Linked DNA regions of Homo sapiens: region 1 is linked to region 2. A link means that fine-mapping ties the variant in region 2 to the plasma level of a protein whose gene starts in the linked region. Region 2 holds a variant in brackets. A gene starts in the other region. All regions are shown on their forward strands.

Region 1 (15,601 bases), not on the chromosome of region 2:
CAACAAGAGCGAGAACTCCATCTCAAAAAAACAAAAAAAGTCTGGGTTTGGGGCCTTGGGTTCAGATCCAATCACAAACAGAAGGAAGGTGGGTTAGGAAGCAGATGGGGAGGGATTCAAACCCATCTGACCCCAAACCCCTAAAAGGCTTCAGTCTCATTAGTGAAATGAACAGGCCAGATAGATGTTCCCTAAACCTCTGATGGCCTCAGGTTCCATGGGGGCGGGGGCAGGGGCAGGGGGCCGAGTCAGCATGGGCCCATCCGGGGAGCTCTGCCAACACTCCATCCATGCGCTCTTCAGCATCTGGTTTTGCATATCTTAATCGCATCAGCATGATGGATGGTTGTGGGATCCAGATTACATTATGGGGTTAATTTATTACATTTTTGAACATCCGTCTGCTGGGAGACTGTTGTTCAAAGTTATTTGCATATTTTTCACCATAATGACAATATGTAGGAGGGCGGCTGGGAAGGAAGGATGGGTGTTTAGGGGGAGCAAGAGTTTATTTGCCAACTAGAGCAGGTCCCTGAGGATCTCTGATGGGGACGGAGGGAAAATCACTCCCAAGAGACACTGAAATGGAAACTGAGAAGGTGAGCTGTGAGCACCAGCCCAGCAAAGAGGAAGACCTGCTCGGGCAGAGGAGGACTGCTGGGGTTTATGGAACAAACCCACAGTGAGTGAACCGGGCAATGAAGTTTCCAGACCCCAGAAATGATTCCAAGACCCCTCCCATCCCCACCAGGCTGATGGCAGAATGAATCAGCTCTCCCACCCTGCCTAAGGTTCCCAGGACACCAATCACATGGGTATGGGGGACATACAGAGTGAGACACACATAGCCTGGTGACAATCTCCTGATATCCTGACGCTCAGGGGCCCATCCAGTTGCAATGCTCCGGGGCAGGGACCCAGCCCTCATTCATTATTTCAATATAGTGCCTGGCCAAATTCAGGTTCTCTCTCTCTCTCTCTTTTTTTTTTTTTCCCAGAGACAGGGTCTCTCCTTGTCACCCAGGCTAGAGTGCAGTGGGGCAATCATAGCTCACTGCAGCCTGAAACTCCTGGGCTCAAGGGATCCTCCTACCTCAGCCTCTTGAGTAGCTAGGATTACAGGTGTGCACCACCACACCTGGCTGATTTTTCAAATTTTTTGCAGAGGCAGGGTCTCCCCATGTTGCCTAGGCTGGTCTCGAACTCCTGGGCTCAAGTGATCCTCCTGCCTCTCACCCTCGCAAAATGCTGAGATTACAGGCTTGAGCCACCATGCCCAGCCCGAATTCAGGTTCTCAGCAAATGTGTGTCAAATGAGTGAATGAAAGAATGAATGGCAGAGGAATGAAGTGATGGTGGACAGTGGCTCATTACCACTTGCCTGACTTGAATCCCAACTGAGTCTGGATGAGGAGCAAAACACGTCGACTTCAGTGCCCGGGCTATGGGTGGCACTATGCAGAGAAAAGCTATTTTCAAAAACAAAAGCAAGGGCTGTGGCATGTTCCCTATGGTGTCCCCAGCACCCACTGGGCCTGCTCATGTGTCCAACCTGCTGCTTCTCTCCCCAACACTGCCCCTTAACCAGCTGCGAGGCCCTTCTTTCTCTGAACCTCAGTTTGCTCATCTGTAAAATGGCATAATGGTAGTTCTAATTTCATAGGATTGAGCAAAGAGCAAATGTTTATGTCCATGTTCATGTTTATAAAAAATATAAAGTGCACAATGCCAGGCATGGTGGCTCACGCCTATAATCCCAGCTTTTTGGGAGGCCAAGGTGGACGGACCACTTGAGCTCAGGACTTCGAGACCAGCCTGGGCAACATGGCAAAAACTCTACAAAAAATATAAAAATTAGCTGAGCATGGTGGCGTGCACCTGTATTCCCAGCTACTTAGGGGGCTGAGGTGGGAGGATCACTTGAGCCCAGGAAATCAACGCTGCAGTGAGCCATGTTTGTACCACTGCACTCCAACCTGGGTTATAAAGTGAGACCCTGTCTCAAAAAATAAACAAATAAATAAAGTGCACAATGCCTGGCACATAAATGCTCAATTAATGACTGTTATGACAATGATATTAAGGTCTATATACACTATTTAAGCCCCCAGAACAAACCCTCTGGACAAGCTGTCACACTTTTCAAAACCCCATCCAAACCATCCTTAGCGGCATCCCCATAGCTCCATTTCCATTTCCCAAGGCAGCAGGCAACTCCCAAGGTGCCCTAGGGAGGACACGCATCATCACGGAACAAGATGCCTAAAGACAAGGACTTCCTGCTGACAGCTCCTCTCCGCTCTCATCTGCCTTCTGGTGTGAGGCCTGACCTGGACAGCTGTCCCAGATCCCAGGGTTCACTGCTGACCTGAGATGGCTTCCGACACTTCAGCCAGAGCAAAGCCCTCACCTGCCATTCCCTCCGTGGGGTTCTACTGATTCCCAGTGTTGCTGACCCCTCAGTGGTCAGGGGGACCTTACTGATCATCTGCTCTTTTTTCATAGAGACAGGGTCTCGCTGTGTTACCCAGGCTGGTCTTGAACATTTGGCCTCCAGAGTTCCTGCTTCAGCCTCCCAAAGCTCTGGGATTACTGGCATAAGCCACCGCGCCTAGCTAATTTTTTTGTACTTTTAGTACAGACGGGGTTTCGCCATGTTGGCCAGGCTGGCCTCGAACTCCTGACCCCAAGTGATGTGCCCGCCTCCACCTGCCAAAGTGTTGGGATTACAGGCTTGAGCCACTGCGCCCGGCCCAGAGACACTAAATGCCTTACACAACATCAGGAGTGTCCAGATATATTCAGAAGCCATCCTGGGCCACAAGGTAAGAACTTTTGATCCAGCTCAACTGCCACTTTAAAAAAAAAAAAAAAAAAAAAAAACTTCTCTGTGGAGATATAATTCACAAACCATAAAGTTCACATTTTCCCTGGGTACAATTCAGTGATTTTTAGTATAGTTACAATGTTGTACATCGCTACTCTCTAATTCGGAACATTTTCATCACTCCTGATGTCTTGAGAAGGGTTGTTCATGCCCAAAGTGTGTTGCCAGGTACATCAGTTCCAAAACTACTAATCTACTTTCTGTTCTATGGATTGTCCAATTTTTTTATTTTTTTATTTTATTTTTTGGAGACAGGGTCTCACTCTGTCATCTAGGCTGGAGTGCAGTGACGCAATCACAGCTCACTGAAGCCTCAACCTCCTGGGCTCAAGCGATCCTCCCACCTCAGCCTCCCCAATAGCTGGGGCTACAGGTGTGCACCATCACACCCAGCTAATTTTTATTTCATTTATTTCTTTTTTGAGACGGAGTCTCTCTCTGCCACCCAGGCTGGAGGGCGGTGGTGCAATCTCGGCTCAATGAAATCTCTGCCTCCCCGATTCAAGCGATTCTCCTGCCTCAGCCTCCCGAGTAGCTGGGACTACAGGCGACCTCCATCACGCTTGGCTAATTTTTAAATTTTTAGTAGACATGAGGTTTTGCCATATTGGCCAGGCTGGTCTCGAACTCCTGACCTCAGGTGACCCACCTACCTTGGCCTCCCAAAGTGTTGGGATGACAGGCATGAGCCACCACGCCCAGACTAATTTTTAAAATTTTCTGTAGAGAAGGGGTCTCACTATGTTGCCAGGCTGGTCTCCAACTCCTGGCTTCAAGAGGTCCTCCTGCCTCACCCTCTCAAAGTGCTAGGATTACAGGCATGAGCCACTGCGCCTGACCTGGACTTGCCAATACGGAACATTCCATATAAAAGTAATTGTACAAAATATGGTCTTTTATGTCTGGCTTGTTCCACTTAGCATAATGTTTTCAAGATTCATCCAGGTCGAATCACATATTGATACTTCATTCCTTCGTAGAACCAAAATACTCCCGTGTATGGATAGACCACATCTGCTTATCCAGTCATCAGTTGATGAATATTGGAGCCTGCTTTGGCCCCTCAAGTACCTCATTTTACAGACAAGGAAACTGAGGCCCTAAAGTCATCATAAACTGGATGGGATAGGAGTCCAGGCCTCTCCTAACATCCACCTTTTCATATTGTGTCACCCCAGCTCCAAGCACATCGGAAGATCACCCAGCCAGGGGACAGCCACAGTAGCAGCATTTGAACCAGAGACTCCAAGGTTTTTCTCCTGGCTCATGAATACTGGCCCACAGCTCTATCCTTGGCGACGCAAATCATGCTGGCTGCACACTGCCCCCTCTCCCAGGCCCAGGTGACCATCATCTCTTCTCTGCCACAGTACTTAGCTGGTCTCTTGCTTTCACCCTTGTCCCACTGCAGACTACTCCCAACCTTAGGAATCAGCACACGTGGCCGGGCACGGTGGCTCATGCCTGTAATCCCAGAACTTTGGGAGGCCGAGGCTGGCGAATCACCTGAGGTCAGGATATCGAGACCATCCTGGCTAACATGGGGAAACTCTGTCTCTACTAAAAATACAAAAAATTAGCCAGGCATGGTGGCAGGTGCCTGTAGTCACAGCTACTCAGGAAGCTGAGGCAGGCGAATCGCTTGAACTTGGGAGGCAGAGGTTGCAGTGAGCCAAGATCGCGCCACTGCACTCCAGCCTGGACAACAGAGCAAGACTGCATCTCAAAAAAAAAAAAGAAAAAGCAATCAGCAAACCTGCTAAAAACCTAAGTCGGATCATGTCTCTGCTCTGCTCATGGTCCCTCTAAAAAGCTCAAGTCCTCCCTGTGGCCTTTGCAGGCTCACATTGTTAGAGGTGTCTGAACCAGAGCAACCCCATCTTGAGTAGGGGCTGGGTCAAATGGGGTTGGGACTTGCTGGGCCATATTCCCAGATGGCTAAGGCATTCTAAGTCACAGTATGAGACAGGAGATCAGCACAAGATACAGGTCATAAAGACCTTGCTGATAAAACAGTTTGCAGTAAGGAAGCCTGTCAAAACCCACCAAAAGCAAGATGGCCACGAGACCAACCTCTGGTCATCCTCACTGCTCCACTCCCACCAGTGCCATGGCAGTTTACAAATGCCATGGCAACATCAGGACGTTACCCTATATGGTCTAAAAAGGGGAAGCAAAGGCCAGGCACACTGGCTTACCCCTGTAACCCTAGCACTTTGGGAGGCCAAGGCAGGCAGATTGCCTGGGGTCAGGAGTTCGAGACCCGCCTGGGCAACATGGCGAAACCCTGTCTCTACTAAAAATACAAAAAATTAGCTGAGCATGGCGGTGTGTGCCTGTAACCCCAGCTAACTGGGAGGCTGAGGCATGAATCGCTTGAACCTGGGAGGCAGAAGTTGCAGTGAGCCGAGACTGTGCCACTATACAAGCCTGGGCAACAAAGTGAGACTCTGTCTCAAAAAAAAAAAAAAAAAAAAAAAGGCTGGGTGCTGTAGCTCGAGCCTGTAATCCCAGCACTTTGGGAGGCTGAGACAGGTGGATCACCTGAGGTCAGGAGTTCAAGACCGGCCTGGCCAACATGGTGAAACCCCATCTCTACTGAAAACACAAAGTTAGCGGGCATGGTGGTGTGCACCTGTAATCCCAGCTACTCGGGAGGCTGAGGCAGGAGAATTGCTTGAACCCGGGAGGTGGAGGTTGCAGTGAGCTGAGATTGTGCCACTGCACTCCAGCCTGGGTGAGAGCAAGACTCCCTCTCAAAAAGAAAAACAAAAGGCGGGGGGAGGGGAGAAGCATGAATAATCCACCCTTTGTTTAGCACATCATCAGGAAATAACCATAAAAATGGGCAACCAGCAACCCTTGGTGCTGTGCTGTCTATGGAGTAGTCATTCTTTTTATTCCTCTACTGTCTTAATAAACTTTTTACTCTATGGACTCGCCCTGAATTATTTCTTGTGCGAGATCCAAGAACCCTCTCCTGAGGTCTGGGTCAGGACCCCTTTCCTGTAACAACATGGTCCTATCCCAGCTCCCTGTCTGATGTCACCTCACTCTGTTCCAGACTGACTCTTCTCCACCAAACACACCAAGCACACTCCCGCTCCAGGACCTTTGCAGTGGCTCTTCTGCTTGCAAGTCTTCTCCCCACAACCACGTGGCTCATTACCTCCTTTTCTTTGCCAAAAGAACTGCCCCAGCAAAGAGGCCTTTCCTAATAACTTTATGTAAAACAACACCTCGTCCCTTCATGCTTTGTCTGTAATGTGCTTTACTTTTCTTCATAGCACTAATCACCACCTGACATCATTTATATTTATTTGTTCACTTATCTTCTGTCTCCTTCACTAGAATCTGAGCTCCATGGGGGCAGGGATTCTTGTCCATGTTGTTTACTACTGTACCTCCGGTGCCGGCACATAGTAGGTGTTCAATAGGTATTTATGGGATGGATGACTCAAACCTTTCAGTGAATAAACAGTTCAGTGTTCTCATCAATCCATCCTGGTGCCCACCAAGCTAATAATATCACGGTAACAATGGCAGCTAATTTTACAGGAGCATTTCCTATGGGCCAGACCTTAGAAACGTTATCTCCTTACACAGGGCACTGCATTCACGCCTAGAACACTGAAATTTAGGTATAATCATGAGCTCAGAGGTCAGGCGACTTGCTCGAGGTCATAGGGGACGGCATCAGAAGAGGAACACAGACATTTAGCCTGACGGCAGAACTGTGTTCTAAAACCTCAAAGTCATAATTTGCCACACGCTGGAGAAAGAAAACAGTCGAAATGGAAGCCACCTGGCGAGCTCAGGGCGCCAGGTGGGAGCGCTGCTTCCCACATATGGGAGTCCGGCCCCATCGCTCTTTGATCTTTGCAGCGTCCGTGGCCCCACCGACCCCGTCGTGAGTTATGGGAGGCACGGGACCCATAACCCAGCATTCTCAGACTCCCAGGGTCGTCAGGACACGGCGCCCCGCGCGGTGATGGATGAGCCGGCCCCAGCGCTGGCTTTGTCCGGGTTGGGCCGGTCTGAGAAGCTTCAGGCCGGCTTTGGACGGGGCGTGGCGAGAGCCGCGCCGCGTGTGAGTGTGTGTGTGTGTGTGTTTGTGTGTGTGTGTATTGGGGCGGTTGTCTTTCTCCCTTCCCTACCGGGAAAGAGGGCACAGGTGCGCCGTCAGCGCCCCAGGTGAGCTGGTAGCACTTTGAAGACCCTTTGTACCCCTACATCCAGGAGCGACCTCTCGGAGAACCCCGCCTGCCCACTCTGCGCACTTTCTGCGGCTACAAAGGCCCCGCCGTTCCCCGTCCCGCCTCCCCCGCCCTGGGCATTTCTTCCGTCCCTTTTGACAGTCTAGGCGGAATAATCCTTTTGTGGCCCCGGGCCCCTGCCCTGACAGACGCGGCCGCAGCTGAGCGCGCAGCCTCGCTCCATTGTTGGGGTCCACCGAGGACCGCCCGCCGCGGCCCTTTGTCGCCCGCCCTGCGCGGGGCCGCTCCAGAGGCGCCACAACTGCCGGAGCCCCTCCCGTCCCACGCGCCCTGGGCCGCGCCGAGGCGGCTCTTACGCACCGGGAGGAGTGGGCCTGCCTCGCCCGGTGCCCGCACGGCTGCTGGGCTGCGCCCGCCTTTGTCTGCCTCCTTTGTCTGCCCCGCGCCCTCGCGGCGGCGGCGCCTAGGCCTCTGGGGAGCTGGCCCAGAACTCAGAGCGCAGCTGGCGAGGGCGCGCTGGCCGGGTGCGCGCCGGGCCCGGCCCCGGGGCTGCCCCTCGGCTGGGGGCAGTCGAGCCCGCCACCCGCCGCCCCTCCTCTGTCCCCTCCCCGCGCTCCCGCCCCCTTCCCTCCTGCCCGCCCACTCCCCCTTCCTTCCAGTCCCGCTCAGCCCGGGCACATCCTCCGGCTGCCCGCGCACCTCTCCACGCCGGCCCCGTTCCGCGGCTCGCCCTCGGCTGCGCTCGGCTCCCGCGGGCGCTCGGCCCCGAGCCCCTCCTCCCCCTACCCGCCGGCCGGACAGGTAAGGCACGGCCTCGGCCCGCCCCTGGCTCCGCCCCTCCCGCCCCACCTGGCTGCGAGCCCGGACAAAGGTGGGCTACCTGGCGCGCCCAGGGGCGGGGTGCGCGGGGTCCCGAGGCTGGAAGTGAGGATGCTGCCTCCTTCCCAGCCCTCGGACCCGTCTATCCGCCAGTCCTTCCGCCGCCTCCTCTCCTCGCCGCGTCTGCCCACGGACCCTGGCTCTGCTCCCGGGCTCCCCATCCGTCCACCTACCGCTGGACGCCCACTTTTCCACGCTCTGACACTCGGCCTCGCGCGCGCCCTCGCCGCCCTCTGGGGTCCCGGCTCGCACCTACTCTCCTCGGCACTAGCCTTCTCTCTCCCTGACCCAGTCTCCCTTTGTCTCTCTGTCTCTGAGTCTCCGGGTGGTCTCTCAGGCAGGGGGCCCCAGTCCGCCACCGTTGGAAGAAGTCTTCGAAGACTCCCTGAGCCCCGGGCAGAGCTGGCGGGCGTGCCCTCCAGCCCCTTTCGAGGCCGCCCAGGAGGCTGGGGTGTGTGGCCGGGGTCGCTGAGTGCGCCCGGAACCAGCACCGCCGGTGGCCCCGCGCCGTCCCATCTGTGCCCAGGAAGGTACTCAGCCTGGCTCCCCCGACGGCGCTGGTCTTTCGCCTGTGGTCTCCCGCTCTGTCCCTCCTGCTCCCCACCGCCGGCTTTTGGCTTTTCTCCGTCCGCTCGTCAAGGGTCTCAGCCGCCTTCGGGGCCGGGGTATGAGATGAGAGAGGGCTGGGGTTTCCCGCCAAGTCTTTCTTGCTTTCCTCAGCTGGGTGCTCCCTGGGCCATCCTCTCCGCCCGGTGGTCTCCCCTGCCCTATATGCTCCCTCCACGCTGCCCACCTCCCAGCCCAGTGACACACTGGTGTCTGGAACCGGTTCAGTACTATGCATCTGGAGTCGGGTACACTGGGGCTCTGGGAGTGATCTCGGACAAAGGAATGCACCTCTCTGAGCCTCAGTGTTCCTGTCACAAAACAGGGATGGTGCTAGTCCCTACCTATAGGGATGTGTGTGGAAATTGTGGGGTGCCGCTTGGTGCTGGTTCACACACCCTGTGGAGGAAGGGAGGGGAGGGGAGGGGAGTCTACAGACCTGGGATGGGGTGGGGACAGGGGGCTCCACAGAAATGGATCTCAAAGTCAAGGCTTAGAGACACTTCAGAGTAACCCCACCACCACAGCCTCTTCCCCCATCACACTTCCTGTCACCTTCACCTCCTCGTGCCCATACAGGCGTCCACACCCTTGCAAGCACTCTTCTCTTTCTCTCTCTCCTCCTCTTTGCTTGTCCTAAAATCAGCTAAAACAATCAGGGCCAATGGGTCACTTTTTTTCAAAATGAGATCAGTGTGGCTGAGCTGGTGTTGCCAACAACTGATCACCCATCAGAAGGCGTCCGGTGACTCACCCCCAATTCTGAACCTCAGTCTTGGCTTGATGCCTTTAATAGCGGCACCAGCTCACAGGCCACTTCCTTTCCTCTGAGGGGATTGTCTTGCTGGCTCCTGGACCTGCTGTGTGCTTGCCCAAGCCCCCTGACCACTGTCTAGGTGGTCATAACATGTGACACACCACTCCAGGAGTCTGGCAGTGACGTGGCCTGAGTGTCTTAATGAGGGCAACTTCAGAAGAGGGAAACCTCCCAGCTGGCAGGTTCCAGGCTCCCCTGGCTGAGTTCTTATTTCAGCCACAGCCAGGGCTGGCAACTGGAACCTTTCTCTTTAGAGGCAAGAACGGCTGGATATCCCCACGACATCCCCCATCCAGGCTCCTGCTCGAAATCCGACCTGGCAGACAGGCCCTACTTTGGTGAACCCGGCCCTTCATACCATCTCTACCCCCTGCCTTCTGCAGCAAAGCCAGCTCAGAGGCTTGGGAACCTTGCTCAGGTCCTCTCTGCTCTCTCCGCTGCCTTCCTCCCCACTATTCAATTCATCGCCCTCCCAGTCCATAGTCCTCAGTGGCTCACTGTGGCCACTCAGTTAACTACAGAGACCTCAGCCCAGCCTAGCCCTGTCCTGCCTGCCTCCCAGCATTGTCCCCTCTGCGTCCCAGGTTGCAGCCACGATGGAGAACTGACCATCTCCACAGTCTGCCCTCCTCTGAGCTTTTGCTAGGGCTCTTTCTGCCCTGCCCTGTGTTTGATCTCAGCCCTCTGTCTTTGCTGACCAAGGAGGTCTGATGTCCTCTCCTGTGGGAAGCACCCCGGCACTCCCTTGCCTCCCTAGCTCTTGTGAACTGCACGGCATAATCCCTATCTGGGAGGGGTCTGCTCCTCCCTGGGTGGGGGCTGGGTCTCCTTCTGCTTGTGGTCCCAGTGCCTGGCACGCAGTAGGGGCTCTGTGCACACCTGTTATATTGAATGTGATTCCTGGTCAAAGGCACAGGAATGAACTGAAAACTGCAAGCCCCAGTGTCTTGCTGAGTTCTGCTGGGTCCTGCTGGTGGGGCCAGGGCGGAGCTGGCCCTCTGGCTGGGGAGGTTGGAGGGGGAGCAAGCTGCCCGGAAACCCCTGTGATACTGAGGCCCTGTATCACTCTGGAAAATGAGGGTGGTCTCTGTGCCTGTTATAGGGGTAGAAACTGAGACCAGAGAACGAAGTGGCTCACCCCAGCCGTGCAGATTGGGTTTGAAGCCCAGCTGATCACTTAGCAGCTGTGGGACCCAGAGGGAGTTCCTTCACGTGTGTCGGCCAGGAATGTGATGGAGCAGGGACTTGCATCCCAGCCTCCCCGAACTTCCCTCAGAGGCATGAGCATGTTCCTGGGGGGCAGGTCATAGGAGCACCCCTGTTCTGGCCCAGTGGGTTGGAGCTGCCTCCCTCTTGCTCCGCTGGCCCTCTCTGCATGCCCTACTCCAGCCTTCCTTCTCAGGGGTGAGTCGCTGTGGCCAGTGGTCCCCAAGAAGAAGAAGGTTGTGGGAGGATGGCTGAATCCTTGCCAGTAGAGGCTCTGCCACCCCAGGTTCCAGCTTGACAACGCCCCATGCCCCAACACCATGACCCACCCATGCCCCAACACCAAGACTTCTCTTGATGGGATGGGGTTGAAGGGGTGGTTATGAGGGATGAGGCTCCTGCTAGAACCCAGAGCAACTGGAAGGAGCTCATTGCAGGACTTAATGGTTTTCAGGTGTACCAGGCTCTGGGTCAGGCCCCAGCTCATGCCACCTTCCCTGGGACTCACAGCAGCTGCACTGGTGTTGGTTACTGGATGGCAGCATGAGGAGCAGTCTCGGCCAGGAATGTGATGGAGCAGGGATGATGAGTCTGAGGAGTCAGATGGCTGTGGGTTCGAATCCCAGCTCTATCACTTGCTCTACTAGGCTATCTTAGGCAAGTCCCTTGGTCATTGTCTTAATGTTCCTACACAGCCATTGTTGCTATTACCATCTGAAAAATATTATCCACTTCAGGCCAGGTGCAGTGGCTTATGCCTATAATCCCAGCACTTTGGGAGGCCGAGGCAGCTAGCTCACTTGAGGCCAGGGGTTCGAGACCAGCCTGGCCAACATGGTGCAACCCTATCTCTACTAAAAAAAAAAGATACAAAAATTAGCTGGGAAGTGTGGTGCACGCCTATAATCCCAGCTACTTGGGAGGCTGAGGTAGTAGAATCACTTGAACCCAGGAGGCACAGGTTGCAGGGAGCAGAGGCTGCAGTGAGCTGAGATTGCACCACTGCACTCCAGCCTGGGCAACAGAGTGAGATTCTGTCTCAAAAAAAAAAATATATATATATATATATACTTCAAAGGGTCAAGTTAAATAATGCCTATAAAGCTCTGGGCCTAGAACCTAGAACAGTAGATGATACCCAAACAAACACAGAGCTAAATGGTCTAGGTACCAAGATAATGAAGTTTGAGGAATATGGAGGCTGAGGGTTGCTTCCCCCACCCACAAATTGCCTAGGAGAGGAGGAAGAGGGGCCACAAGTACCTATAATCTAGCAGGAGGTAGGACTCGAGTTCAGCAGGTGAGCGGGGAATGCTGGAAGCTGGAGGCCTTTGAATGGGTGGGGCCTCTGATGAACTCCCGCAAAGCCCCTGTACAGGTTTTTAAGGTGTGAGGTCTGGGGTGGGTTGAAAATCCCAAGGCTGCTGTCGGAAACAATAAAAGCAGATGGAGCTGCCCCTGCAGGGAAGCCAAACCTCATTTGCCAGGACAATGGTCCCCTCCAGGCTGGCCTAGGACAGTCCTGCCCTGCCATCGATCACCCCACTGAGGACAGAGGACGCAGCCACCTGCGCCTGCCCCTTTGCACACCCAGGCACAGATGCACAAATGCTTCCAGGAAACTCCCTGGCCCCCACCACACCCATGCCTGCCACCTTACTCCCTCTGTCTCCCCTTCCCATAGTAACAACTACTGTTTATTTCACCCTTCTGTGTCCCATTTACTTTATAAACATTTACTCCCCAGCCGGGTGCGGTGGCTCACGCCTGTAATCCCAGCACTTTGGGAGACAGAGGCAGGCGGATCATGAGGTCAGGAGTTCGAGACCAGCCTGGCCAAGGTGGTAAAACCCCGTCTCTACTAAAAATACAAAAATTAGCCGGGCATGGTGGTGGGAGCCTGTAATCCCAGTTACTCGGAAGGCTGAGGCAGGAGAATCGCTTGAACCTGGGAGGCGGAGGTTGCAGTTAGCTGAGATTGTGCCATCGCACTCCAGCCTGGGCAACAAGAGCAAAAATCTGTCTCAAAAAAACCAAAACAAAAAACACTTTGGGAGGCCAAAGCGAGCAGGTCACGAGGTCAAGAGATCGAGAACATCCTAATCAACACGGTGAAACTCTGTCTGTACTAAAAATGCAAAAATTAGCCGGGCGTGGTGGTGTGCACCTGTAGTCCCAGCTACTCGGGAGGCTGAGGCAGAAGAATTGCTTGAACCCAGGAGGCAATGAGCCTCCTGGTTTCAGTGAGCCAAGATCGCGCCACTGCACTCCAGCCTGGTGACAGAGCAAGACTCTGTCTCAAAAAACAAAAACAAAACAAATCAAAATAGCCAGGCATGGTGGTGCATGCCTGTAATCCCAGCTGCTTGGGAGGCTAAGGCAGAAGAATCACTTGAGCCCGTGAGGCAGAAGTTGCAGTGAGCCGAGATCGTGCCATTGCACTCCAGCCTGGGCAACAGAACGAGATTCCATCTTAATAATTAAAAAAAAAAAAAAAAACAACTTTTACTCCCCAATCCTCATGACAGCTAACATTTTACAAGAGAGGAAACTGGGGCCCAGAGAGGTTAAAAAACTTGCCCAGGTTGTCTAGCTCCTTCTGCTTTGCTCAGTGAGGGCCCTCCCATGGGTCAGCTTAGTGGGTTTGGGCTGACATCTGTGAGCTGGAATCGGTAGTAGTGATGTCTGGGCCTCCACCTCTCATTAATGAGACCTGTGGCCTCTCACCCGGACTGTCTCCCTTATCAGTGGGGACACCTGGAGGCAAGGACTGTGTCTTTGCTGGCAGATCAGCAGCTCCATGTTCTGGGACCCTCCCAAGGCCAGAGTTGTGCCTCTCCTATCAGATTGGCAAATTCCTGAGGACAGCAACTGTATCTACCCTGCTAGATGGGAGGCTTCCCCAGGGCAGGGGCTGCTTCTGGCTTAGATTGAAAGCACTCTGCAGCCATGGGCTAGGTCCCCTAATAGTCATAGAGTCCTCTAAGGCATGACCTGGTTCCCTCCTATCCCAATGAGCCAGGACTATGTGTCCGCCCTCAGACTGGTGGTTTCCAGGAGCAGAAGCCAGGTCTCTCCCTTCAGACTGGAGCAGGTGCCCTTGTCTGGCATCCTGGTTCTGCACACAGAGGGGCTCAGCTAGTGGCTGACCACCGGGATTCACTCTCCCCTGCGATCTCCATCGCAAGGAGGCAGCAGTCCCCAGCAGAGCAAAAGGCAGAGCTCTGTGCCTGAGAAAGACCCGTGGAGGGGTAGGTGGGGCTCTGGCTGCTCTGAGGCCTAGGGGTTGCTGAGAGGCCCCTTCCTATTGGTCAGGTGACACTTTGGGCGATACAGAGCCACAGGGAGGCAGGGAGATGGGTAGGGACTAGTCCAGGATGATCAACGCACCAGTATGCCAGTGAACACCCAGCAGGGCAGCTGCTGTGAATCCCACCCGCCCCATCCTCTATGCCACCTGCACTGCCGGGCTCCATCCATACCCGGAACACCACCACCACCCACCCACACACAAACCACACAGAAGCACTGACTTCCTAAGTAGTCAAGTCTCATGGCAGCCTAATAATCCCATTTCACAGACAAGGGAATAGACTCATGAAGGGAGGAGATGTTGGGAGGGATCAGGAGGGGGGTTAGAACACTCTCGTTTCAAATTACCTTGGGAAGAGCTCAGCCCAGGAATTAATTTAGAATCCATACAGTTGTTCCCCAACTCTCATGTAGGATATGACTGTTTTGACTGAACAAGAAAATTACCCACTTTCCAGCCCTAGGGGTGTCAGCTCCACCTAAACAAGACAGAAGTCTGCTCCTAGGGGGCCGGGGCTCCAGGAAGCCCTAACTAGATCTGGGGCTGACTGCAGAGTGGCCACACTCTGCTAAGAGCAGATGGGGCTTCCGGACTGCACTGCCCATCTCCAATTCCTGCCGTTTCAGGAAGTGTCCATGTGAGTGATGAGGAGTAGCCAGAGGGAAAAGTTGGGCAGATCAATCTCAAGTTAAAGCAATTGCTGGGCCCGGGACTCACGCCTGTAATTCCAGAACTTTGGGAGGCCAAGGTGGGAGGATCACTTGAGGCCAGAAGTTCAAGACCAGCCTGGGCAACATAGGGAGAGACCTCATCTCAACTAAAACTAAGAAAAAATTAGCCTGGCATGATGGTTTGTGGCTGTTGTCCCAGCTACTTAGGAGACTGAGGCAGGAAGATTGCTTGAGCTGGAGAGGTTGAGGCTACAGTGAGCTATGATGGTACAACTACTCCAGCCTGTAGGGCAGAGCAAGACTCTGTCTACAAACAAACAAAAAAGCAATCGTAAAATCTTCCTGGAACTACAGAGACATAAAACCTGAGATGATTCCTGCATTCAACAAAATCTCCTGAATCTGGGGATACAATTCCTCCCCACAGAGCTCCTAGGTTGGGAGTATCCGGAAGGGAAGATTTTGCCCCTAGCTCCTGGAGACTCAGTCCACACCCTACTGGATATTGTCTGTCACCCCTCCCCATAGGGGTCTGACAGTTGAACAGACAGACAGATGGAGGAGTCTTATCGTCATAGATCATAAATTCTCAGGCTCCCTTGGCAGACAGGGCCTTTGGGACCACCTAATCCAATGGCCCAGTGGTCCTCCTCCCCTACTCCCTGCCAAAAAGAAATGTTTTGAGTAGTGCAAATCTTTTCCCAAATGAAATTCGATCCGTAATCCCAATACATAAAATCAACAAAACAGTGTTTTATAAGCAGTGTAGCACTCCACCACCACCAAGAATGCCTTTCCCCAAATCAAAAATGTCTCTATTTTATGCAGACACAACACACCTTTAAGCCCTACTTGCGATCAGACTAACTCTCTTTGGCTTCTCCCACCTAGATTCTGTGCGACCACTGCTTTGCCCCAGTTTATAATAATTACTTATTTTAATTTTTGTTAAAAAAATTTTTTTTTAGAGACAGGGACTTACTATGTTGTCCAGACTGAATTCAA
Region 2 (15,601 bases):
TGCTTCAAGCAACCCTTCCTCCAGCCTATCCTAGATAGCACAGCCAGAGCTGTCTACCCAACGCACAGCATGGATATGCTCTCTCATGCTCAAAATCCTTTCCCAGTGCGCATTAACACTAGACTCGTTCTTCCCTCCACCCAGAGTACCTTCGACATTCTGATCCTTGAAGCCCCAGATCAATTCCTACTGCTTCCAAGAAGCTCATCCTCATGAGTTCTTGGATGAAATAGGGAGTTCCCACTCACTGGAGAATTTCAAGAAGAATGACTCAAGCACATGCTCAGGAATCTTTATTGGTTCTCCATGTTCTATTGAATTAAAAAAAAAAAAAAAAGCTCAAACTGACAGTCAATACAATCTACAACATATACTCACCCAGATTCCCACCCTACTATTCCACCCTACCTGGCCTAGTCCCCTGCTAATCCTGAGAACATGCCTCTATCTCTATCTTTATCCATATCCCTACCACCTGGTACTCCTGTCCTCCGATTGTCAAAACTTGACCCCTCCTTTGAGATTTATTTCAAATCCTAACTAAACTCTGCTGCTTTCCCTAATTCTATCCTCCTTCCAAGCCCTTTAACTCCTGTGTTTCTTGTTTTTCCCTAGGAATCAGAATCTCCTTGGCACTTCAGTCAAGGGTACACTTGGAGAACATAAGGCCATTGAGACAGGGACCGACCTATCTGTGCATTGTGACCCCTAGGTTAGCACTGTCATGCCATAGCATTTAGGAATTATTGAGTGAGGGACTCTCGAAGGTCCATGTCTTGGCTGTTGTACAAAACACACGAGCATTGAATGGGAAGTTGGACAAAATAACGCCAACAGTCTCTTCCAGTTCTGGCCTTCCAGAAACCTGGATCAGCTCTATGACATCTTCTGAACTCTGCTTTTCCCAAATCCCTTTGGCCCCTTGCCACCCAATTCACATTTAGTTGTCTGGGTTTTTTGTTATTGTTTGTATTTAATGTTTTGCAAAGAAAATGCATTCACATAGTTCAAAATAATTTTGTAATTAAAAGGTACAAAGGACAAAAATCTCACCCCCACCCCATCACGTAACTGTTTAGTTAACACTTTTATTATCTTTTTATATCCTTCCAGATTTCCTTTACGCAAATACAAATATATGTTCTTACATTTTATTACACAAACAGTAGCTTGCATGAGGTTGTTTTTGTAATTGATTTGTGAGTTAAATTTGCTCACCAGCTGCAGTGAAATTGCTGTGTTGGGAGGGTCCTTCAAAGCTCCTTTATGCCCTACTATGCCTAGCTCAGGGCTAGGCACATAAAAATGCTTAAATAAGTGCTTCTTGGTTGGCTGCCCTTCCATAACCTTCTCCAGTCCTGCCTGGAGCTGAAAGCACGTGCCCTACTTACAGCTCCAACGTGTGAGGAGAGGCCCTGCACTCTCACTTCCTCAGACACATTTTTAGAGAATCATCTGAGCCCCGGGGGCAACGATGCAAGTTTCCATCTGTGGTATGCCAGGCCTCCCATCACCTCAGCCTTTCAACTTGGTGGGAGAGAAAATATCATGGGCTAGGAATCAGGAGACTTGGATTTCCTGCAGCTGTGTCCCCAACTTGCTGTGCAACCCTCAACAAGACACTCATCCTCTCCAAGCCTCGTTCTTCTCATCTTTAGAATGAGGAGATGGCCCAGGTGATCTTCCAGGGATCTGCCCACACCAGCACGGCCCTCAGCCAGTCCCTTCCAGCCTCAGCTGTGCAGACATTGTGTGCTATGGGGATGAGGGCCACTTTGCACCCAGGAAGGCACCTGCACTCCCCCTGGACCTGTGCCCATTAGCGTGTTGATCCCAGCTAAAATGGCACAGCCTTGCCACAGTCACACAACATTGCATGAGCATCTTGGGGCAACAATTCTTTCCCCTGGGGCCACAGGCCCGGGCCCCAGAGGCAGCTGCCTGCCCGAAGCAAGACTTAGCCTTTCCTGGTAAGTCAAGAGAAGCCTAAGTGAGGTCTCCTTGATGATCCAGATATGGATCCCATGACACCTAAGGACACATCTAGGGAGGCTAGACTACCCACCGATGTAGGCTTCAAGGCCAGCACTGCTCTCACTCACATCCTTGAAGCAGGTGGCACCAGAATGGGGAATTGTGTGGTTCCCAAGAGCCTCTGTGGGGGAATTCCTCTCCATTCCTCTCTGCCCGACTGCCCTCCTCACCTGCTTCCACCTGCTGTTAGAAACAGGAGAGATGTGACCTGGAAGGCACCTCCAAGACCATCTGGTCCACCCTCTTTGTCTACAGATTCAGAAACTGAGTCCAGAGAGAGGAAGTCACTCACTTGGGGCATGCAGCTGCCTGAGTGAGGAAACAGTCTTCAATGGCAAGCCACTCAACACGTCTCAGAGAAGCCAGCCAGGGCTCCCTTCCCCCTTCTGGAGGCCGCGTCCGCACGTCCACAGTGCAGCAGGTGCCCAGCCAAGACTCTCGACTCAGGGAACAGGGTGGGAAAGCTTCTCAGGGGGAGCAGCCAGGAACACCGGGTGGTTGACTCAGTTCTCTGCACCAGTGGCGAAGGCTGGCTGCCAGCCTGCCTCTGGGGGCTTAATGTGGGTATAAACTTCTTGCAACTGTTGTAAGCAGGACAGGCAGGGAAGAGATGAAGGTGGCAGCGTTGTCTTCAGCTGACCAGTGTTCAGGCTGGAACTGGGAGTCGGGCCTGAATTCAGACCACAAAAAAAAGCTATTGTTAGGAGCCCCGTTCCCTATTAGGGATAGAGATCAGAGCTTGTGGAATTTACTTCTATTGAGTGATCCCCACTTCTCTCTGCCTGTCTAAATCCTCTCTTCTTTGAAAAGCAGCTCAGAGCTGCCTCTTTCTTGAAGCCTTCCTTGCCTACGAACACCCCCATGCAGTCTCCATCCTCTGAACAGCTTGCAGCATTTCCTTCAGGAGGCATCAAGGAACTGGGCACCCGTCATGAGTTCTGGGCTGCCGCTTAGATTACGCATGTGCCTGAGGTCATGGGACCAAAGGCTGGGCGTCTTCAAGAGGAGCAGGATGTTCTACCCCTTTAGTGCCCTCCGCAGCCCACGGCCCAGCAGAATACATAAAAGGTGTGCAATAACAACTTACTTGCCTGTTGACTGATTCCAGTTCCTCCCCCCAAAGGACAGCGAAGCCAACCACACACTCTTGAAATGCTTGTTTCTCCTGTCAGACATCCCTCATGTCCCCATGCCAGCACCCCCAGGCAGTTCCACGGGGAGAGGAGTGTAAGGTGGCAGAGTTGCCGACTGGGCTTCTGGAACTGGCATCAGGCTTGAGGGTCGTTTCGGTGGACTCCACACTGCCTCACGGACCAGGTGCAGCACAGCTGGCTAGGACCCGTAAGTCCTGCCTTGCATCCTCCCTCCCATCATTACAGCAACACACACACACACACACACACACACACAATGTCCTCATGTTTTTCCCTCTTTGGCTGCCCCTGAAGCCTATTTCCACTCAACTCCTCCTCTATGGATATGTTCGGACATGTGTAATTTATCCCAGGGCCCTTTCGGACTGGAGTTAATCTCACATCCTAGTCTACACGCATCACCTGCCACCCAACTCGTCCCCCAGGGACTCCCTCCAGCTCTGGGAAAGGCCAGGTGACAGCAGCTCTCACACCGGCTCTGGTGTGGAGAGGGGTCAGAGTAAGTAAAACCAGAAACAGAGAAATAGCAGCAGTAAAAGCAAATGCCACTGTGTTGCTGGACCTCACGGAAGCCCCTGCCCACATTTAGAAAGATCCTATAATTTCCAGACCGTCCTGGTCAATAATAATCCGAGAGAAACCTTAATGTTTGATTTCTTCCTCGTTGTGATTTGTGGCTTGTGGAGCTCAAGATCTTTGAGGCCAAAATGGTGTTTTTGTTCATTAGGCAAAGTTGCAGGCCCAGGCAGCAGCGGCTTTCTCCAGTCTGCCCCCGCCTGGCCCCAGCTGAGGCTCAGGAAACCTCCTTGGCAACGGCTAAGGGTCTCACAGTGACATTAACCCAGCCACATTCCACACATGTAATATTCCCGAGTAGTACTTAAGCTTGTAAATCCATTTTTTATGATGCAGAATTGTACAGCATGTGCAACGCGATGCGGATGTGTTAACATCACCGTGAGAAACTTAACTTTTGAATATCCTTGTTTTGGGAGGTACACATTTTACAACTTCAGCAACATGTTACCAAACATTTCTTACACAGTTACTTCCATACAAGGTTCAAGGTGGTTGGTTATATTTAAATATAGAATTTCCCCCTACCTGATCACACTGAACAAATTAAAAATGGCTCAATTATTTGCATCAAGTTCTGGGTTTCTTACTGACGCCCTTGCTTCCCTATTGTAGCTTTGAAATTAGACTTTTAATTGTGCTTGTGAAACAAAAACACAGGAGGCCATTTTCATTGCAGAACAGAAAGTTACAGGCAAAGTTAAATGCACCTGCATTTCTTTCTTTGTTGGCTGGGGGTAGGGTAAGGAGGGAGGAGGAAGAGAAAGATTTCTATTTCAATGTCTCACTTCAGGTCAGAGATTAGAACTTCCAAGCTCTGTGTGAACAGGGCACCTGCTCACCTTCTCTGGGCTGTGATTTCCTGCTCCAGCACCAGCGTGCTTCAGCATTGACAGAGGAGAAAAACTTATCCAAGTGATTTGGGCAAATATATCTGATTATCACAAGCCCTATTCTCTTTCTGTTGGCACTGATCGGGAAATGTAATTCACCACCCTCCAGTGCCATAGTCCATGGAGTGGAAAATTCTAAATTCAAACCTGTTCCAGGTCAAAGATTCTTATGTCAAGGCAGAAGAATAGAGCACAGTTTAGCAACTGATTAGCTTCATTTATAAAGCTAATTGATTAGCTTTATTTGTTAATTGATTAGCTTTTATTTGGGTTAAACAATTTAGTCATGTGACAGGTGGATGTCCATTTCTACTCTTATTCTACTCTTCTCTTGATGGTCGGCTGGCTGACCAGTTCCCAAAACACACTCTTTGCTTCAGTCAGGATGGCAATCCCACAGACTCACTGTCTCATTCTTCAACTACACCACCTCCCGCCTAAGCCTCGTTCTTCTTGGCCCTTCCCCAGGATTGCTCTCCAACCCCTTCCCTCCATCTTTCCATCCTTCCAAGCCTCATTCAGCCCCAGTTCCTCTCTGAAGCTCCCCCTGATACCTTCCACCCCTCACAGACCTCCCTGCTCTCTACACACCTGTAGTGCTCCCAGCATATGCCACCAGCTTTGCCTTGTGGAATGACTGTTTTCATCACCTGGCGACTTGTACCAGCTTGTCTCTCCACTCTTGTAAACCTGTGGGAGGGCCCCTATCTCATGTGTCTGTGCATTCCAAAGAATGCCTAAGAGGGTGTTGCACTTAGAGCTGACACTTAATAAATACTTGCCTGTTTGGGGAGGAAAATTGCAATCAAAATTTTAAATGCACTTGGCCTCTAACCTACCAGTCCCTCTTCCAGGCATCTAGCCTATGGAAACACTAGCCCACTTATATAAAGATGTATGTTTAAATGAGTTTATACATGGAAAAGGTTTAGAATAGGACCCCACCCACAGTAAGCACATTATTCAGGATTAATGGTAGTTGTTGCTACTGCTATTGTTGAGAGGTTCACTGTAATATTGTTTATAATAGCAAAAATCTGGAGCAAACCCAAATGGCCAGAAGGAAGAGTATCGTTTTTGAAAATGATGCTACATCAGTATAATTGTAGGTACATTTTAAAAAGAATTAAATTTATATATACTGAAATGGGGAAATGTCCCCAGTATTAATGTTTATCAAAAAAGCAAACCACAGAACAACACTTATAGTATGATTTCATCTTTTTAAGAACTAGGTAGTAATATGTATATGCACTATACATATTCATGGCAGCAGCATAAAGTCATAACTAAGAGCACAGATTTAGGACTCAAAACACTTGGATATTGATCCTGGCTTCACTGCCTACTACCTACGTGAGCTCCAGAAAATTACTTAACATCTCAGTTTCCTTATCTCTCAAATGGGGAAAACAGTCATATTGCCTCAGAGGACTGGCACAGGGACTAAATGAGTTCATATATGTAAAGCACTTAGAATTGTGTCTGGCATGTCCAGATTCCCCAGTAAAGGTTAGTTCTTACCACTGTTATTATCTGAAAAGGAAAAAAGACTGAAAGGATATAAACCAAACTGTTAACAGTGGTTTCCTCTGGAGAGACAAATTAGGAGAAAAGGAAACCTTCTGGTTTGGTTTTGTTTTACCACAAGCAGGTATAACTTACATCATATAAAAATACCTCCTATTTGTCAGTAGCATGGCAGGTTTGATTCATAAGGACAAACTGCTACCTGAGATGTAATGTAAGACGTCAGGATGCAGGCCACAAGCCACGGCTTCCCCATTTCTAAATCCTGATTCTAATTCCAATCCACAGCCAGAAAATTAAAAAATAAAAGATGTTATCACCAGCTGCTGCCCCACGCATACTCTGCAACCCCACAACATGCTGAAAAATGGAGAACATCTGTTTTAAAAAATGAAAGCATCAATTACTATTTTAAACGGGAAGAAAGGGAACAGGAAGTAAAT[A/G]TGGTGACAAGTGTATTTTTATTCATGCATCTTGACAGCCAAGGTAGGGTCTAGTGCTGCTTTAATAATCATCTTCCTGTAGTAGAAGATGGTTCAAAATACCATAACTTTCCTACTACTCCCTTTCACCTGGCAAAATCCTCGTCTTCCAAGACACCTTCCCAGACAACTCCAGTCTGCAGCATTCTCTCCCTACTCCCAACTCAGAGAGATTCTCTGCCCTCCCGCATCTGGGTGGCTCTCCTTCTGGTGACTCATGTCATGATTTAACATAAGCACCACCCAAGGCCCCAGAGTGTGGAGAACAGGAGCCTCTCTGCCTCAGGTTTCTGTGTCCTCCACCACATCTCATGACAATCCCGTCCCACTGGCTACAACAAAAAATCTAAAGTCCTTGGCCCGACACTCCAGGCCTCCCCACCATAGCCCCACACTCTCCACCAGGTCCTCTCTCTTTCTGGGGATGCAGTCAGACTGGCCGAGTCCCTGTCCACCACCTCCACCTTTTGCTCTCCATTGCTTACTTTTTTTTTTTTTTTCCTTTTTGAGATGGAGTCTTACTCTGTCACCAGGCTGGAGTGCAGTGGCGTAATCTCGGCTCACTGCAACTCTCACCTCCCAGGATCAAGTGATTCTCCTGCCTCAGCCTCCCAAGTAGCTGGGACTACAGGTGCGTGCCACCACGCTCAGCTAATTTTTGTATTTTTTTAGTAGAGACGGGATTTCACCATGTTGGCCAGGATGATCTCAATCTCTTGACCTTGTGATCCACCCGCCTCAGCCTCCCAAAGTACTGGGATTACAGGCGTGAGCCACTGCACCTGGCATTCCATTGCTCACTTTTGTGGCCACTTTCCCCTTATATTTGCCATCTCTATGCTGTTATCAGCTTGCTTTTCACATACCCACCTCTCGCTATTCCTTCAGGCCAACTTATTATAATACCCCCAAGTCCTGGTCCCCAGCCAATACATAAGGATCTATTTCCCCCACTCCCCTCTGCACCCCTCATCCTGTGCCTAGCAGAAAACCCAAATCACACAAGCCACCCTCTGAATGGGTAGAGCTTGTCTCTTCAACTGGATCGCAAATTCCTGGAAGGCAGGATACGTGTCAAACTTGCTTCTTTTCCTTTCTCAGATTGGGCATGAGTGGAGTGGAGCAAAGGCTTGGAGTTGAGGGAAGGCGGAGTGAGAATCTTGCCCCAAAAGTTTAATGTGGACTTTCATTTAGTAGTTATATCTATCTGACAGCTCGCTAACTTTGTATGGCAACACTTTCTTATTTGTCTTTTCATTCATTTTTCTTGCTGGGAAAGAAAAAAAAAAAGATAGTTAAAAATTAAATCCAAAACTTTCAGCTCTGATAAGATGAATTTTCTCAAAAGCCAATAATTCCACATGGCTCATCTAAAATTAGAGAGAAGTGACCAGGATTTTTAGTTGACTGGCTTTATAGTAGATGCAAGATAGTCAAAATCTATTTAAATGACTTTCTTAGGGAATTGGAGCAGCAGGCAATGTATCAGATGCCAGAAGTCCATTTAAATATTACACTAAGGGAAGGGAATTAGTTTGGTCAAGCTGCTAAAATGAATAGGCAGGGACAGAAATGCCCTGGAGAAGTGCTGGGTATTTCATCTTGAATCTATTTGAAAGATAAACACATTTATTTACTAAGTTTAGTACTTCAACTATTTTCTGGAATCGGTATTTGTACAAATCCAGGCCGAGCTGGCCAACTGGAATTAAAAAATGACCAGGACTAAAAAATTAATTTGACACTCCTCAATTTCCTTGTTTAGAAACACAAAACAAAGTCCTATTGAAATTGGAGATATATACAATATTTCAGTCTACAACTGGAAACTGCTGCTGTGCACCGGCAAACAGCAGCTCTCAGCTCCTCCAGCCCCAACGTGCTTGCCATGGCGGTCCAGGCTGCAGCTGTTTATGAGCTTAAAATGCAAACATGCTAACTTTTTTCTTCTGCAGGAAAAACATGTATTCCCACTGACACCTACTGCTGTCTTACAGATGGGCCTAACGCTGAGATTTCAAACATTTTACAGGAAATACACGGACCCACACTCCCTGAGCAGGCCCCGTGCTACCCAGGCACTTTTTAAATTGCTTTTCCAGTAGGATCCCAGGAAAAGGTTCAGTTTTGCCACCACCTGCACAAGGCCAGGATATGACTGGTTTGACAATCTCTAACCTCTGCATTCCTGCAGGGGTCCTCCGGGTAACTCTGCCCCCCACCCAGTTAGTGACCCCTTATGGACTCTGGATTGGGTGTTTGGTAGCCTGAGTTTCCTATGGCCAGCAGAGGCAGGAAGACCACACAGTATCAGACATAACATCTCACAAGATGAGGTGTGGCACAACATCCCAACTGTGCTGGAAACTGGGGCTGGCTGGTGAGGATGTCATTTAATGGATGAGCAACTCACCAGCCGGTTTCATTATTGAATGCCTCCCTCTGGCCCCTGAGTAACGGAGCTCTCGCTGGCAGGCCTGGCTCTTCCCCATAGTTCTCAAAGGTTATAGAACCCCCTTCTTCCCTTGTAAACTCTTTCAGCAATAGTCTTCCCTGCTCCCCCTATATTGTCAACACATCATAGCTGAAGCCTCAGTGGAATACCCCATCCAATTTCCCATAAAATGGGACATGAAAATAAACACACATATTGTATGTTGGTTTACATTTCCTGCACAGACCCAGCAGGGGCGACAGGAAAGACATTAAGGAAACTATTTCTAAAGCAATGGGCTACATTTTAGCCAGAATACTCTCACTGACCCTAAAAAGAAAGCCATTCAGATGGCTAAAATCCCATATAATTCTTTGAAAACGCTCTTCAACATTCCCATTTTAATTTCCAAAATCAATATGGCTTGCTAGTGCCCCATGCTCCAAGACAACAATTCATATTGATGGGGAGGAAGGGATGAACATTTTTCTATTGAATGGAAAATTTGGTTATTTTTAAGGACATTATTCCAAGAGAGAAAAAGGTCTTAAGTCCACTGCACCTGACAGAGTATTCTTTTGTTCCTAGAAGGCTGGTTTCTCTTGACATCTCTGCCCTCATTAAAAAAGCATATCACAGTTGTCACCTTTATGTTTTCAGTCATGCAGTTTCAAGCCCCAAAACAGAATGTTGTCATTTATTTTTCTTCTGAAGAAATGGCACCCTGCTCACATGCATGCATGCTCAACGCCAAAAATCCGAGAGGACATTCCTGTAGCACCTCTCTAATTCAGAGCACCTGGCAAGTCTGAGTTAGCGAGTTGTCTCAACCAGGGGATAGTAAAGGCTATTTTATGTCTTCCACGTATATTCACTAACTAGGTAATAATCACTTGCCATTAGCACATGAAAATTGTGCGTAAGTGGTGCTGCTGAAGAGCTAGAAAACAGTTTGTTCTCAGGTAGGTAAATGGTCCCTCCTGCAGTCTTGTTCACACTGTTAATTTGCTGAGCAAACCCTTTCCTCAAGGACTGTGCAAACACCGGTTTCGGGCTCCATGTTAAGGAAGCTCACAGGCAGTCCTCTGCCCCCTTGAGACGACAATTCATCTTCCACCACAACAAAGCCATTTTGCCACACCTAAGAACCAAAAAAAAAAAAAGAAAAGAAAGAAGCATTGCATGTAATATCATTGTCTCTATCAGCCATGGCCTTCCTTTGGTAGGGGCAAAATATTAGTCTCACACTCCAGCCACAAGGAGAAACTTGACACATCCGAACATTAAACTTCCTTCCAACCCTGCCCCCAACATGCCTGCCTTGCTACCCTAATTCTTCCCCCTCTCCCACCCCCAAGTTTCTGCCTATGAGGAGAGAAGGGTGAGGAAGTGCGGATGTCTGCTTCAGGGTGCTATTTGGGGTTTCATCTATTCATGCTTCTCACTTAGCACCCACTTGCCATGGAGGGGCAAGATGAGCCTGGGACCACTACCTTTGAGGGTTGGCCAAGAGTGGGCACCCTGGATCAACTCTTCTCTGGCCTCAAAGAGAAATTTCCTCTTTGCCTGCTCTTCCCTGAGGATCTGTGCTTACTCTTGTTCCAAGAGAGAAACTTGACAGACCAAGATCAGAGTGTGGGGCTAAGGACTAAGAGGACTATTAGACTGCTTTGAGGCTGGCTTTGAACCGGAGGGTTAAGGGAATCCTGAGACCCATGCTGGTGCAGCAGATTCAGCGGGAAAAGGAGTTTCACATCGAGCATGGGGTCAAAGCCCTGTGGAAATCAGGAGGCCTTTGCCAAGAGCACATACTCTGCATGTCTTTCTTGAGCCTGATCTGGGATTGTGTATTTGGGATTTGACTCATCACAAATAACCTAATGAGTGAAGAAATGTCCAAAAGCAGGTAAGTGGAAATGTGGAACATAAGAAGCTGAGATAATCCACACACAAACGACAAGTCCCCAAATGACTATGGGTTGCCTATATGTACTCCAGACATTTTCGTAAACTAAGAAGAGTTAAAATTGACCCAAGACTTTTGCCCTTCCTACATTGCAGATAACACAACTGCAAATATCTAATGCCTTTAGTAGGGATGACTGAAGTTGACATTATAGATGTAGTAAGATCCATGCCCCAAGGATGTTAAGATTCACTGTCAGACAAATAATCTGTGTTAGCTCTGATAAGAAATCCACTAGAGTAATTGGTTCCAGGGTCATGCACCTCCCCACCCCTTTGAAGAGCAGAATCCTACTTCTGGAGACCGTGAGATGGGGGCTGAACTGGAGAACCTCAAACAGAAGTTTGAAGCTTCCTGGCCAGGCGCCGTGGTTCACGCCTGTAATCCCAGCACTTTGGCAGGCCGAGGTGGGCAGATCACCTGAGGTCAGGAGTTCGAGACCAGCCTGGCCAACATGGCAAAAGCCCGTCTCTACTAAAAATACAAAACTTAGCCATGCATGGCGGTGGGTGCCTGTAATCCAAGCTACTCAGGAGGCTGAGGCAGGAGAATCCCCTGAACCCAGGAAATGGAGGTTGCAGTGAACGAAGATAGCACCACTGCACTCCATGCACTCCAGCCTGGGTGACAGCATGAGACTCTGGCTCAAAAAAACAAGAAACAGCAATAACAACAACAACAACAAAGTTTGAAGTTTCCTGCTTTATTTAACATTAATGCCAATTTTGCATTTGACTCCATCATGTAATGATGATCTTTCCATTAATTACATTTTCCTCAAAAATTCATAAGTAAAATAAATGCTCCATGAAAGTTGCCATGTTTATCCTACAGCCCAGGGTTCACCCAGGATACCACCACCTCACTCGACACTCCCCAGTTTGAGAAGAAAAGCAACAAGGGAATGAAAGTACAATTCTGAATCTTGGAAGGAGAAGTGAAAAGAATGCTTATCAAAGTAGGGGAAGACAGAAAAGAAGAATTTTTTGGTATTTTTCCCATAGTCATTTTCCATAACTGCTGAGTCACTGCTAGAAAATGGTTAAAGTATTATGTTGGCTTGTCATGAACTTTTCCATCAAACTGTGTTCATTTGGCAAAAAGTTTTCTCTCCTAGGGACCATCAGAACTTGGCTTAGGAACAGGCTCTCCAAACACCTTGAGAACTTCATGCACATAAGTGCAACTCCTTGATCCCTTAATACATCTAAATTCTGATGAAGTCAATGAAGGTGTCAGAGCAAGACACAAAATCCTCAAGGGACTACCACCAACTTAGCTTTTCCAGTTCACATGGAGATGTTAACTCCACTTATCAAAGAGAAGTACAAAAAGGCACTCAATTATGAAAAGTAGAAACCAAAATGAATGATATTGTGAGTTGGCCTCAGCTGGGGTTTCCTGAATTTATTACCTTAGAAAGTTAAAAATTGGATCTGCCTCTTCCACCCAATATGGTAGTTGGTGGAAAGTAGCGTCTCAGAGCAAATCGCCAGAGTCATGGTGGCCTCCTCAAAGAGGAACAGCTACGCAAACCCCACCAACGCAAAAGGAGAAAGAATAATCACTTGGAGAAGCAAGTTAATGAAATCATGTGTGTAAAGACAAGTAAAATTTTAATACTATTATTAGATAGTTTGATATATGATGAAATCAAGAGGGAAAGACTTAGAGATATGAAAGAAAGGGGAAGTCAGGAGGCCAGGGAGGACCTGGGAGGCCAGGGAGGAGGAGTAGGGAACGGTAGAAAGAATGCAAAGCCCAGAAGAAAGAGAACAGAAAACACAGGAAGAGAAGTAGATAGCGGCTGAGCACGGTGGCTCACGCCTGTAATCCCAGCACTTTGGGAGGCCCAGGTGGGCCGATCACGAGGTCAGGAGATCGAAACCATCCTGGTTAACAGGGTGAAACCCCGTCTGTACTAAAAATACAAAAAATTAGCCAGGCATGGTGGCATGCACCTATAGTCCCAGCTACTTGGGAGGCTGATGCAGGAGAATCACTTGAACCCGGGAGGCAGAGGTTGCAGTGAGCCGAGATTGTGCCACTGGGCAACAGAGCAAGACTCTGTCTCACCAAAACAAAAAAAAATTAACCATTTTGGGGGAAAAAAAAAAACTAGTACTAGTATAAGCCAGAAACTTCAGAAGATGGACCTTCCACTTGAATTGTGGTTCAGTCCACCTTCTTGAAACAAAACAGTAATGATTTTGTTTCCATGGCCACATCTTCTGTCATGATTTGATTTGCGGGAAGAGTTTACAAAGATGTGATTGTACCTAGCAAAAAGTATTGTCAACAGATTTACTTATTAGAGTAAGGAGCATCATTTTCTCTATTTCATGCCAAAGTTAGGCATTGAAGCAAACCTCTCTCTCTCAAAAATACACACACGGACACACACACACAGGAGCACCTACACATACATCACTCTCTCTCACACCAGCCGGATATTCATGTCGATACCAAGTCCCAAAGCCTCTCTCACCTGAGTTTCCACCATCTTTCTTCCTTATAAGCTTCAAAGCTGCATACGTGATGTAGGAAACCAACTCTCACTTGCCATATCAAAACACAGCCAAGGCCAGGCACAGTGGCTCATGCCTGTAATACCAGCACTTTGGGAGGCCAAGGCAGGAGGATCAGGAGTTGAGGAGTTCAAGACCAGCCTGGGTAACATAGGGAAACCCAGTCTGTTCAAAATTTTTTAAATTAGCCAGTTATGGTGGCATATGCCTGTAGTCTTAGATACTTGGGAGGCTGAGGTGGGAGGATCGTTTGAGCCTGTGAGGTCAAGGCTGCAGTGAGCCATGATTGCACTACTGCACTCCAGCTTGGGCAACAGAGCGAGACCCTGGATCAAAAAAAAAAAAAGTTTAATGGGGCCAATACATAGGCTTCTTTTAAAGAGCTTCTGGGCTGTCAGAATTTTAGGGTTCAAACAAAAACTACATTTGACTTACAGGGTCCTTCTTCTCCAGCGTCCTGGTAAAGGAGACAACAAAACAGCCAAAAGGTAGACAGACCCTGGAGAAGAGGTGTAAAGAGCTGGGAAATCCTCTAGTCCTGACTAATTGAAAGTAGACCAGGGATCCCTGTGTTCTATGAACCCTCCACTGCAATTGGACAGTAGGCTCCCTGAAAAGGCTCAAGCACTGCTCAGATCATTCCAAATTACAAGGGGGAAAATCCCTTGAATGAAGAGCTCAGTGAGCAATCCCCACCTATTTTAAAGTGTAAGGACACCACCAGAAACATGAAAATCTTCCTCCCACTCTTGTTCTTAGTCACTTGAGCCCACTACACTCATGTGCGTGGATGCAGAAAATAAAAATGGCCTGCAGTCCCTTGAAAAACTTTCCTTAATCTTGATGTTACTTTAAAGCCATCATAAATCATGCAACCTGCCAATCTTGTTGTGTTTTATAAACTGTGGGAGCAGTAGAGCATTTCTGGCCCAACGATCTCCTAGTAACAAATGCCAGTTCTAATGCCACTGCATTTTCTCAATACCACTTGACCTCTTAAACAAGGCCCTACAAATATATTAACTGTCATATTCTCAATTTCTTTTTTTACAATGGGAAGTGATATTCTCTTATGACTAGCCTGATGGAGCCAAAGGCAGCTTCTTTCTGGACATTGAAAAAATACCCAATTGTGGTACGTAGGCCTTTCCTGCCTGATAGCTACCACCCCTAACACTCCTGAGTTATCTCTTCCCTATAAACCCCTAGGGTCACACCCCACAGGCTCTCCAGGTTCCTGCTGAATCCCAGCCTGCCCATGCTCCTTGATGGCATCCAAATCAGTGCCAAAACCAAGCCCTGAAGGGGGACACTCTGCATGGCCTTCAGGATCAATGGAAAAGGCAGAACCCAGGCGAGCCGAGGGCCTGGCTTGCCTTCAGGAAATTCCGGGCCGTCTGCAGCAGCTGTGCTTCGAGTAGTACAACAAATTCACTTACTGAATGACAACAGCTTTATTGGCAAGCCAATTCAATTAAAGCCCCTGCATCCAACAAAGTCTCCGGCAGCCCTCTCTGCATAAAGAACATGGAATCGTGCCTACATTTCCCTGAGTGCCCTCAGCCCTAGCTGTCCCTCTACATGAGAGGGAGAGGGATGAATGAATTAGACACGGATGATGGTAATTAATGGCTGGCTGTCAGAGAGTCATTTTGGAGGCTCAGCCGTTGAAGGCTCCATATTAAAGGCCGGATCCCAGCACAAACTGACCAGGACAGGCTAGAACTCCCTCTCTAAATGGTAGGAGTGACGTGGGCACCTGGGGCAAGAAGGGAGGGGGAAGCAGGAGATGGCGAAGGAGGTTTAGAGGGGAAGTAGAGAAGCAAAACAACAGGCTGCTTGCGTTGATCAATGCTTTTTACACTATTGATATATAAATAATATGTTCATTTTTCGTTTTTACAAAATATGTCCTTTAGGCTACCATTACGGCAAACTGACTTCAGAGTTCTGACATGAGCTTATTAGGGGGCGGAAAGGGAGGGCTGCCTGTAGAACTAGAAA

Which allele goes with the higher level. Positions count from the first base shown, and alleles are read on the strand shown. Strength reflects both the effect of a copy and how common the allele is.
With allele G in place of A in region 2, the plasma level of the protein whose gene starts at base 7,762 in region 1 is higher (moderate association).

What was found. PIP is the posterior inclusion probability: the model's chance that the variant is causal. Protein levels are from antibody-based Olink assays in UK Biobank. Linkage for the fine-mapping came from a reference panel and not from the study's own genotypes, which makes the PIPs less certain.
Region 1: it holds the start of DRAXIN, and the variant in region 2 is fine-mapped to the plasma level of the DRAXIN protein (UK Biobank, PIP above 0.99).

The regions. Positions count from the first base shown.
Region 1 is chr1:11,683,949-11,699,549 of GRCh38, forward strand. It overlaps DRAXIN (dorsal inhibitory axon guidance protein), which reads left to right and starts at 7,762. Exons shown (of 7, transcript NM_198545.4): 1 at 7,762-7,905. It also overlaps a transcript of MAD2L2 not described here. RefSeq lists enhancers at 696-1,196, 6,060-6,569, 6,570-7,077.
Region 2 is chr2:60,349,605-60,365,205 of GRCh38, forward strand. MIR4432HG (MIR4432 host gene) reads right to left here. Exons shown (of 2, transcript NR_132992.1): 2 at 9,612-10,244. Among named protein-coding and RNA genes, the nearest start is that of MIR4432, 30 kb to the right of the region's middle. RefSeq lists enhancers at 1,998-2,077, 2,848-3,347, 3,828-3,907, 4,048-4,097. The variant A/G (reference allele first, on the strand shown) is at 6,631.